Linked DNA regions of Homo sapiens. The protein of the gene in region 2 interacts with the protein of the main gene of each other region in a biochemical or structural test. Each region holds a gene or a part of one and is shown on either strand. Other genes may lie near its edges. The genes, in order: SMAD3, NEDD4 and PTEN.

Region 1 (3,600 bases), about 11 Mb from region 2:
CTGCCTGCCTGGATAGGACTGAATACAAAAGTAGATTTTTTTTTTCATCTTTTTTTTCAGTTAGGGAAACCCAGTTGCTTGGGTGGATCCAGACAAAATGGATTTTCATCCTTGGATTTTGTGCCCACGCCTCTGGGTCACCTTGTGTCCCTTGGCAACAGCTGCTGCTGTTTTGGTCGTGGGCAGAAAACTAAAGGCCACGTCTTGGGGAGGTGGCTGGTTTGGCCCTGTGCTGGTGATATCAATGTGTCTGCTAAGCCCCATAGATTGCAGTGTTGCTTGTCAAATTGTCTGCTTTCACCACAACTGCCTTTTAGTTTGGAAAGTAGAGAAAGGAAAATGTTTAACTTAGTCATTCCCCCTGTGTGTGGGGGGTTGGTCACTGGGTGCTTAAAAACACTCTGCAAGATCTGGACTCCGGGGTTTAAGGAGCCCTCAGTCTAAGGAGATTAAGCCAAGTGTGTTTTGGCTAATATATAATCATGAGCAGCAACAGCAACATTTGGCAATTAGAGCTGTATACTAGGGACTTCCAGACCACAGGCTTGCTTCTCTGTGACACCAGCTCTGACTTGTTTCAATTATCAGGGGAGCTGGCGTGATACACACTTATCGACATAAAGAAGGTGAAAGAGATTGGTGCCAAGGAAGTGGTAAGAGCTTCATTTAGATACACCAACAAAGGGGCTGTCAGGATACTCTGAGGTCTGGCAGGATTGGCAGAATTTACACAAGTTTTATAACAGCCTCTCATGCCTCACCTGCTTGAGTACCTGAGTAAAGCTGCAGGTATCTTCCTTGCCAGTTTATAAGAATGGAATCAAAGCATTTGCCGCTGAATGAGAGTTGGTGTGTGAGCGTTATATGAGGAATAAGGAGCTCGGCACACTTAAAACTTAGTTTTCTGGTAGACACTGGTAGCTTGTACTTCCACCAGGGAATCCATGCCTTGGCCTCGTTGTTGGGAGCTAGACCAAGCTTAAAGCATTGCTTGTTTGGAAGGGAATTTGGGCTTTCTTGTGTCAGAGCACCCAGTCCAGTGGAAAATTGGAGAATTGAAGCAAACACTAGGTCTGACACACAGCATCTACTCCCTCCCTGTGAATCTGATGTTTTTTTTTTGGAGACAGAGTCTTGCCTTGTTGCCCAGGCTGGAGCGCAGTGGCATGATCTTAGCTCACTGCAACCTCTGCCTCCCGGTTCAAGCGATTCTTGTGCCTCAGCCTCCCGAGTAGCTGGGATTACAGGCGCCCGCCACCACGCCCAGCTAATTTTTGTATTTTTAGTAGAGACGGGGTTTCACCATGTTGGTCAGGCTGGTGTTGAACTCCTGACCTTGTGATCTGCCCGCCTTGGCCTGCCAAAGTGCTGGGATTACAGGCGTGAGCCACCGCGCCTCACCGAATCTGATCTTTTACTGTAGCCTCCTCTTATTATCTCCTTGACTTTTGCCAGGGTACTCTCACTTTGAGAAAGGAAAAAGATCCTAGTCTTTAACATGCCTTTTCCAGATTTCTGGGGATAGACCTATTACTAAGGCTGTAGAGGCCTCCCTTTTCTCTTGGCTGCACTTCAGAGCACCATGCCCGTGTGGCCCATTGGAAGCAAGCCCCCTTCCAGCTGCTAGGGAGGTGGTCCATTATCTCTTTGCTCTTGTTAAGTTTGATTAGGGGAGTTCCACGTAGGGCCTGAGAAGAGGAGGTGCCTGCAGGACAATAGGTAGCTGATGAGGGATCTGACTCAGCTGCAGCTGAACCTAGGCGCCACTTGACGTTCCCTGGGAACATTTAGAACCTTGGAACATGCTGCTTGCACCTGGGAGTGGAATGTTTGCAGACAGCCCCTCTGTTGTTACAGGGCTGGATTTTGTTGATTTATTGATATTTATTGGACCCTCCCATGTCTGAGTCAATTTTTTAGGTACCAGAGGAGGATGCAGAGACACGTTTGAGAAGCTCCCAGCCTGTGAGAAGCTTACACATCAGTAAGGGAAACATGAATAGGGCATTATTTGAGTATCTAACTGCTATCTCTTTCTCATTCCCAGCTACCAGTAGAAATATGAGATCTAGTATGGATGATTTTTGATGGGGGCGGGCGTTGATGTGCCTTTTAAATATTGTAGAATTCACTATGTTAGGAAATAAAATAATGACAGGCATCTGTTTTTTTCTGAAAAAAACACAAAATTCAGGTCCTGTACCTGCCATTTTACCACCTGCAAGGATTTGGGAATCCATTTAAGTTTCACAGCTTTTATATCTGCACCTGTCAAGTCAGGATGAGATAAGTTCTGTGGAAGTGTTTTGTGAACCAGAGAATTTGACAGGTATGTTACGTTTATACTTCATTCTGCATCATTCATTCATTATTGAATTATTCAGTCCTTCGTTGAGAACATACTACAATGACCACAGCAGGGTCCCTGTACTCAAAGAGCTCCCTGTCTAGAGCGGGAGACAGACTTGCCCAAAGGTATGAGGCATGAGCTGCAGCTGAGGAATGTGCTAAGTGCCCAGCAATGTGGAAACACAGTTAATTCTGTGGGAGGAGGTGTAGAGAGGAGGAGAACCCATGAGAGGTGGAAAACTAAGAAGGGGACAAGGGTTATCCAAAGGAAGCTTTTTGGACTGCAGTATGATGTTGGGAACTTTTTGGTACATGGGGATAGTTCCCTATAAGAATGAGGACGTCTTTATCCTCTTTTACTAAACTGAGTGCTGCTATAAATATGTTACCTTGTAACTGGCACTGAACAGCTAGTGACTTGGGTGCTATATTTTACTCCACTGTAAAGCATTTTCTCTTTGAAGTAAAAAGTAAGTTAGTACTGCAAACTGAAATTCAGGTTTCCTTGGTGGGAACAGGGACTTTAGATGTATCAGCTCAGAATATGACAGGGAGTGTTAATAAAAAGTGGACAACTTGGCTGGGCACGGTGGCTCACACCTGTAATCCCAAGCACTTTGGGAGGCCGAGGCAGGCGGATCACGAGGTCAGGAGATCACAACCATTCTGGCTAACACGGTGAAACCCTGTCTCTACTAAAAATACAAAAAAATTAGCCGAGCTTGGTGGCAGGCGCCTGTAGTCCCAGCTACTCGGGAGGCTGAGGCAAGAGAATGGCGTGAACCCAGGAGGCGGAGCTTGCAGTGAGCCGAGATCGCGCCACTGCACTCCAGCCTGGGCGACAGAGCGAGACTCTGTCTCAAAATAAATAAATAAATAAATGAAAAGTGGACAACTTGCAGATGGTTGTTTTGAAATTCAAAGCTTCGGTGTGACCTAGCTTCTCATTTCTCTAGTTAACACTTGCTGAGAATAAATCCTAGACGCCTGAGTTTCTGAATGAACATAGGTGCTTTTAGTGGTATATTTTTTAAAAAGTCTTTGCAAGGGTGAAGTTTTAAATGACAATTTTAATAACAGAAAAATATGAATACAGTCGCATTTAATTCTGATGAGAAATGCAAGAAGTTGATGAAATTGAAAGAATTTGTTTCAAGCTTATCACATCAGGAATCCAACTAAATGAGTTAAAAAATAAATATTGGTTTAATAATGTAAACATGTGATTGCTGTATTATTATAATGGAATAA
Region 2 (3,832 bases):
AAAAAAAAAAAATATATATATATATATATATATATATATATATATATATATATAACATTCATCATAAAAGATCATAATGCAAATACTGATTCAAAAGACATATAACTTGGTATAACCTATTGAAGTATTTAGTGGGATGTTTAATGTTATCTATAACTTACTCTGAAATGCATGAAGAAACTAAGACAGACTGATGGATAGACAGATAGGTATGTGATAAAGTAAATCTAGAAAAAAAGCAATTGTGAGTAGTTGATATACAACTGTCCAATGTAAAATTCTTCCAACTTTATTATATGTTAGAAAATTTTCATAATAAAATGTTGAGGAAAAAGTTCATTTGTATTTTGAAACATGATAATATATTAATTTCCATGTCATTAAAAGCAAATTCTTCAAAATGTTCAAGCTGCTTGTTAAATTATACTTCGTCTATACTATAAGTGAAAAAGACATACCACAGATTCCATATCATGAAGGGTTATTGGTTTGTGAAGCATCATCTTGTAAAATGGGCGGATGAAAAAACCTTGCAAAAAACCAAATACATTTAGGATGATTACCAAGTGAAAGAAAACAGGTAATTATATTGTAAAAAGTTTATACTTAATACTAACCATCCAACAGTTTGCCATGATAAACTGCCATTCCAGCTACCCGACCAATAAACTTGAAGTAAGAGAGGTGATCTTCGTTACACAATCCAGAGTTTGGATTTATCTGTAGGGTATAATTGTCCCTGTAAAGACAACCCCATTTAAATACTTCATTTGAAAAACTTTAATATGACAAATAATTACAAATAATCTTCCTCCTTTAAGAGTTGTTTACCACTGTTAGAACCACATTCCTCCACTGGATTTAATGGTTTTAAAAATAGTAATTTCTGTCAAAAAGTGGAAATAACCCAAATGTCCTTTGGCAGATGAATGTATAAACAAAGTTTTGTTTGTTCGTTTGTTTTTGAGATGGAGTCTTGCTCTCGCCCAGGCTGGAGTGCAATGACACGGTCACAGCTCACTGCAACCTCCGCCTCCCAGGTTCAAGTGATTCTCCTGTCTCAGCCTCCCAAGTAGCTGGAATTACAGGCGCCCGCCACCATGCCTGGTTAATTTTTGTATTTTTAGTAGAGACAGGGTTTCACTATGTTGGTCAGGCTGGTCTTGAACTCCTGGCATTGTGATCCACCAGCCTTGGCCTCCCAAAGTGGTGGGATTACAGGCATGAGCCACCACGCCCAGCCTAAACAAAGCATTATATGCAAAAATAATGGAATATTATTCTGCCTTAAAAAGGAAGGACATTCTGATACATACTACAACATGGATGAACCCTGAAGACATCATGTTAAGTGAAATGAGCTGGTCACAAAAAGACAAATATTGAATGATTCCACTTATGTGAGGTACCCGAGGAGTCAAATTCATAGGGACAGAAAGCAGAATGGTGGCTGCCAGGGAATGGGGAGCGAGTGCTTACTGGGTATAGGGTTTCATTTTGGGAAGATGAAAAAGTTCTAGAGTTGGATAGTGGGATGGCAGCACAACAATGTGAATGTATGTAATGACTCTAAATTGTATATTTAAAATGGCTAAAATGGTAACTTTTTTTTTTAGAGGAGTCTTGCTCTGTTGCCCAGGCTGGAGTGCAGTGGCGTGATCTCGGCTCCGCCTTCCGGGTTCACGCCATTCTCCTGCCTCAGCCTCCTGAGTAGCTGGGACTACAGGCGCCCGCCACCACGCCTGGGTAAGTTTTTGTATTTTTAGTAGAGACGGGGTTTCACCGTGTTAGCTAGGATGGTCTCGATATCCTGACCTTGTGATCCGCCCGCCTCGGCCTCCCAAAGTGCTGGGATTACAGGCATGAGCCACTGCACCCGGCCGACTCTTACTTTTAAAACAGTGATTTTTCTTTTTCTGCCGATAATCATTGTAAAGGTACTTACGTAGCAGAATATTCAAACAACCCATAATAAGGGTTAAACATTTCCTTTGAGATCAGGAAGAACCATTCTCTGGCAACTCCTCCATAATCCAATCCCTTTTCACCATCAAACTCAATCCACAGTCGAGCCTTCAGGAAGTCTGCTCTCTTGACACCCATAATTCTCCGGTAAGAGTCTTCAAGAACAGTTGCTCGGCGAAGTTTCATTTCAAATTTGTTTGGAATGTCATTCTGAAAATCCAGAGGAGAGACGTACTGTTTAAATCAGTTCAACATAATAACAAACCCATCTCTCATAAAGTTATAACATTCCCTCTACACCCTGTGTCCAAGTCTCTTTTTCCTTACGTAATATACTCAGGGAAAACACAACTAGGTATATTGTCTTGGTTTCCTCTATGGTATGAGACAGTTTCTGCATTTTCTTTAATCACTTAGTAATATAGACTTCTTTACATCTGAAGAAGCTTTTGTTTTTGGAGACAGCTCTGTAGTCCAGGCTGGAGTGCAGTGGCGTGAACATGGCTTACTGCAGCCTCGACCTCATGGGCTCAAGTGATCCTCTTGCTTCCGATTCCTAAGTAACTGGACCACAGGCGCATGCCATCATGCCTGACTAATTTTTTAAGTTTTTGAGGTCTTGCCATCTTGCCCAGGCTGGTCTCAAACTCCTAAGCTCTAGCAATCCTCCCGCCTTGGCCTCCCAAAGTGCTGAGATTACAGGCATAAGCCATGGCACCCGGCCTAAAGAAGCAATTGATGGTGATGGTAATGCCCCCATGAAGGCATTTCGTTAACAGTCCTTTTCATATTAAGTTCCAATGAACACCGTTCTGTGACCTGTAGGATAGCCACTGCCTGCTAGCTGTTGTGCCTGTCTGTTCAGGCTTTTCCCTACCTCTACTTTCCTCCCTGGAGTCTATCTTGCTTCACTCATTAACAGATGGTGACATTTACAGACTGTGCCAGTGATATATTCTGGCTGTGTCCCTACCCAAATCTAATCTTGAATTGTAACTCCCACAATCTCCATGTGTCATGGGAAGAACCTGGTGGGAGGTGATTGAATTATGGGGGCGGATCTTTCCTGCACTGTTCTCATGATAGTGAATGGGTCTCACGACATCTAATGGTTTCTATGCACAAGCTCTCTCTTTGCCTGCTGCCATCCATGTAAGATGTGACTTGCTCCTCCTTGCCTTCTGCCATGATTGTGAGGCCTCCCTAGCCATGTAGAACTGTAGGTCCAATAAACCTCTTCCTTTTGTAAATTGCCTGGTCTCAGGTATGTCTTTATCAGCAGCATGAAAACGGACTAAAACAGCCAGGCATGGGTACCCTGGAATGGCAGGTTAACGTGTTTAACCTCATAACAACACTATGCGAAAGCTACTATTATTGTCTTCATTTTACACATAAAACTGAAGAAGACGACTTAAGAAAGTCTTAGCTCCTGAGTCTGTGCTCTTAATTAATGGAGCTACATTGCCTCACTAATCTTTTGTACGTTCTTTGCTTATGTGACAAATGTACACAACTATGCTTTAGGCAGAACTTATTGTAAATTTTACAAAAGATATATCTAAATATTTTATTCCTCAGTACTTCATGGGCAAATTTCCAGGGGAAACCAGTAAGAGAAAACATGCCATCAATATTCTGTCACCTCCAAAAAAGAAGGTTAGCTCTAAGGAAAAAAAATCAATTTCATTCTCAATTTATTTAGGGAAAATGGAAAGCCCTATAGAAACATAATAATGTAAGCAGTTGATATAAGCAATATAAGCATGATATGAGCAGTTTCCTATACTGCTTATGTCATTAAAAAAATGGTAAGCTTGCAGAACAGCAACTTTAGACTGGATACTAGGCAGCTGGTGCAGGTAAG
Region 3 (3,832 bases), on a different chromosome or scaffold from region 2:
ATACCCAGACTTCCTAAAGGAATACCCTTATTTTTAAAAACACTTATAACTTGAAACAAAATCCTAACATGGCCCAAACTGAGGAAATTCAGTTACAATCATACACCATAAATGAAAATACAAATAATTTCCCTACATACATAACCTGAAATTACAGTTTTTCAGAGCAGTAGCTACCATTTAAGTATTTACAATGTGGCAGGTACTATGCTAAATGAAATTACTTATTATTATCTCACTTACTATTCAAGATAAACGTATGCGGTAGGTTCCATTATCATCCCCATTTTACAGATAAAATAGATTGAGAAAATCTAAATAACCTACTCAAAGTCATCCAGCTACTAAATGGAAGATCCAGGATTACAAAACAAGCAGTCTGGCTCCAGAGCCCACACTGCCTCCCTAAAATCTAAAATGAAACAATGTATATATGCTTAAAAGTATAGATAAACGTAATACTCAAAATTTTAACATAATTTAAAATAGATCTGACCATATTTAAAAACTATAGAACAATATTCTCTAAGGTAGTCTTTTCTTTAAAGAAACAAAAATTCGTTTTTTAATAAATATTAAGATAAAAGGTTTGCTAACTTTGTATACACATACACACACAGAGAAATCAAACACTGGTTAGATTCACTGTTCATATTTGAAGTGGTGAGTACTGATAATAATTATGTGTATAATTACTTAAAATATAATGTGTAAACAGTCTTCTTTTTCACACTATGTGGAGGTCAAGAAAATTCTTTTGATGGCAGGTACAGCTACAATATCCATCTCTCAATATTCTCAACACTGGCCAGGCGCAGTGGCTCACGCCTGTAATCCCAGCATTTTGGGAGGCCGAGGCAGGCGGATCACTTGAGGTCTGGAGTTTGAGACCAGCCTGGCCAAGGTGGTAAAACCCCATCTCTACTAAAAGTACAAAAACTATCTGGGCGTGGTGGCATGCACCTATAATCCCAGCTGCTTGGGAGGTTCAGGCAGGAGAATCGCCTGAACCTGGGAGGCAGAGGTTCCAGTGAGCCGAGATCCTGCCACTGCACCCCAGACTGGGCGATAGAGCGAGATTCCATCTCAAAAAAAAAAAAAAAAAAAAAAAAATTCTCAACACTGCCAAAAAGTAATGCCTTGAAGATGTCCTAATACCTTGAAGATGTTCACACATGTCCCAATGTCAACTGTTGCAAATGAAGAATCTGCCTTAACTATACAGAACTAAAACTTCCCAAATAAAATTAATTCACCCTTAAATTATGTTACTCTTCTTATATTTGCCGATACTTATTTATTCCAGTGCAAATTATTTTAAAAGAATTAAATTGCTAATACTTCCTCTGCAACCAATGAAAAAAATTCAAAAAACTAAGGGAAAGGTGAATAGTCAAGTACAATATACTAATTTCACCTTTCTTGGCAAATTATTTTACATTAGTGAATGCATATACTCAATATGTACAAAGAGAATCACCAAACACAGACCAATATACTTTTAACCACCTATGGAAGAACGTATATGTGGCAGTAATGCACCCTATAAAAGACTTACAGTTATCAGTTTGCTCAGCAAAGCCTTACCAATTTAAGGTTAGTCTAACCTCAACATTATTCTCTCTGATAAGCAACTAAATTAATTTCAAAGCTACCAAATAGAAAGCAATTGTAAAACAGAACTGACTGACCCCAGTCTCACAAATTTCCTAAGTCACTATCTTCAGAACAAATCCTAACATCTTTTCTTAATGAATTCAGGCCACAAGATGAATTCTTCAATGCTGACTGTGAAAATCAAGTTTAACAGAAAAAATGAAGAAAAAGGTAACAAGATTAAGAACTAATGGGTTCCATGTAATAAAACTTCTGAACTGTTTGTTTAACCCAACGGTTTCTACAGAAAAAAAAAAATACATTTCTTAAGCTATGTTAATATTACATTTTCTGGAAGCTAAATCCTTGTAGTATGGCAGAGGCCTCACATTTCAATTAAGCAGAAAATTGTCATATGCATGCAACACTTCTACAATTCTCTTTACAAACTCTGAAGTCACACACAATATCAATAATAAAAGTGATTTCCTAAGCTTTCGTCTTACTTAAAAGATTGAGATGAAAATTTAAAAATAGCACGTTTACTTCAAGTGAATTAATGTTAAAACTTTGTGAAGTGAATTTCCCATAACAAATACTCCTCCATTAAAAGTCACTGAAGTGATTACTTCAGAAGCGGCTTAAAATATTTTTTTAAGTGTTGCGCTATCACCAAATGAACAAACAGCAAATGGAGGCAAATTTCAAAATAACATTAGAAAATAAGAATTGAAGACTTCTTCACTTCCAAAAAGTAAGCCATTTCATAACACTAAGAAGTTTATGTATTTTATGTGGCTATGAGAAAGCAGATGCACTGTTCCATACAAAAATTAAAATATCACCAGTTGCCTTTCCCATGTTATTAAAAATAAAATTCTAAAAAGGTAATAAAGGAATCTTTCTTTACTATCTTCTAAAACTAAGTTTAAAATGAAGGTGGTTATACCTCACCATATTTTATTATCTTTAATCATTTAGTATTTACTTAGTATATTATAAGCAATGTAAATCTGCATTGATGACTATACTGCTGTGCAAACTTTTACACTGGCAGCAATAAAATTCCTTTTTCCTCATATAAACTGTACATTACTCCTTTCAGTTGTGCTTTACACTTGAATAAGCACTATGAAAAATGAAGTTTGTAAGTTATCATACAGCAATTAGGTGGTCCAGTCATGTTTTTCAGGAAATATAACTTAGCAGATACAAAACAATGTAAAATAAATGTTGTGAATAGAATACTTTTTAAAACCCTCATGATTAATTTCAGTAATCACTTACCTTGAGGTAATTTAGGTAACTTCAATAGTCACTGTACTCTCTACAAGTTAAAAGTATTCCCTGTGAACATTTATTTGAAAAGAGGCAAATCTACCAAACAATAAAAATACAACAGAAGCCTAACGTTTCCACATACCCTAAATACACTTAATTTTTCTATAGTCTCAAATTCAGCACTATATTTCAGACTAATATTAAGCATATAACCCTACTAACAAATTTTTAGAATAATTTAATTTTGCGATAATATTTTAAAACTGAATTATTGTCCTCAATTTTCCTCGGAGAAATGGCTTCATTATTAATCTTTCTTTATCAGATAAAAATACTCCAATCACTACTTTCATAAAGGAATTTAACTTTTCACAGGTTAGTTACTGAAATAAATACTACAACATGTCAAAGACAAAGTCTTCAATGACAATTTTAATGCCTTCCCACTCCAATAAACAGAAAACATTAACGTGAAAACAAGCAAACCAAGTACGTTGGAATATCAAAATTATTGGGAGTGCAATTATCAAAAAAGCAAGCACTTCACTGACTTTCCTTACTGACTTTTTTTCATATCAACTTTTGGCTCAATAAAACCACAACTCTAGAAATTAAGTGTTATTAGTCATTTGACGCAATATTTGATACTGCTTTCTATGCATATCATAACTAAAAGTACAGTTTTAGAGAAAGTTTTAAGTCACACAAATTTCATGTGTAGAGACCAACATACGCTGAAATCAAAGAAAATGCCAGTCATGTCACAGCTCACATGTAAAAACCTGGTAAAATAATTTTAAGGTCTTAATAACCCTGATAATTTAAAATCAAGTGGGAAAAGTAAAAGTAGTGTGTTATGTACTTTAAGTGCTGAAAGAAATCTGTCTCCCAGACAGCATTCAATTATTTTCTTCAAAGGCTTTTTTTTCAAAGTTACATAAACATTTAATTTTTT

Evidence for each region.
Region 1: the proteins of NEDD4 (region 2) and SMAD3 interact in a test that uses a peptide from one of them, tested with the Homo sapiens proteins (3 studies listed by BioGRID and IntAct, with this or other methods).
Region 3: of the proteins of NEDD4 (region 2) and PTEN, one has a biochemical effect on the other in vitro, tested with the Homo sapiens proteins (7 studies listed by BioGRID, with this or other methods).

What each region holds. Positions count from the first base shown.
Region 1 is NC_000015.10:67,068,602-67,072,201, forward strand, and holds part of SMAD3 (mothers against decapentaplegic homolog 3), read left to right. Parts: intron 1-3,600. UniProt on the Homo sapiens protein: Receptor-regulated SMAD (R-SMAD) that is an intracellular signal transducer and transcriptional modulator activated by TGF-beta (transforming growth factor) and activin type 1 receptor kinases.
Region 2 is NC_000015.10:55,839,989-55,843,820, forward strand, and holds part of NEDD4 (E3 ubiquitin-protein ligase NEDD4), read right to left. Parts: intron 2,176-3,832; coding exon 1,946-2,175; intron 740-1,945; coding exon 618-739; intron 530-617; coding exon 459-529; intron 1-458. UniProt on the Homo sapiens protein: E3 ubiquitin-protein ligase which accepts ubiquitin from an E2 ubiquitin-conjugating enzyme in the form of a thioester and then directly transfers the ubiquitin to targeted substrates. Specifically ubiquitinates 'Lys-63' in target proteins.
Region 3 is NC_000010.11:87,866,500-87,870,331, reverse strand, and holds part of PTEN (phosphatidylinositol 3,4,5-trisphosphate 3-phosphatase and dual-specificity protein phosphatase PTEN), read right to left. Parts: intron 1-3,832. UniProt on the Homo sapiens protein: Dual-specificity protein phosphatase, dephosphorylating tyrosine-, serine- and threonine-phosphorylated proteins.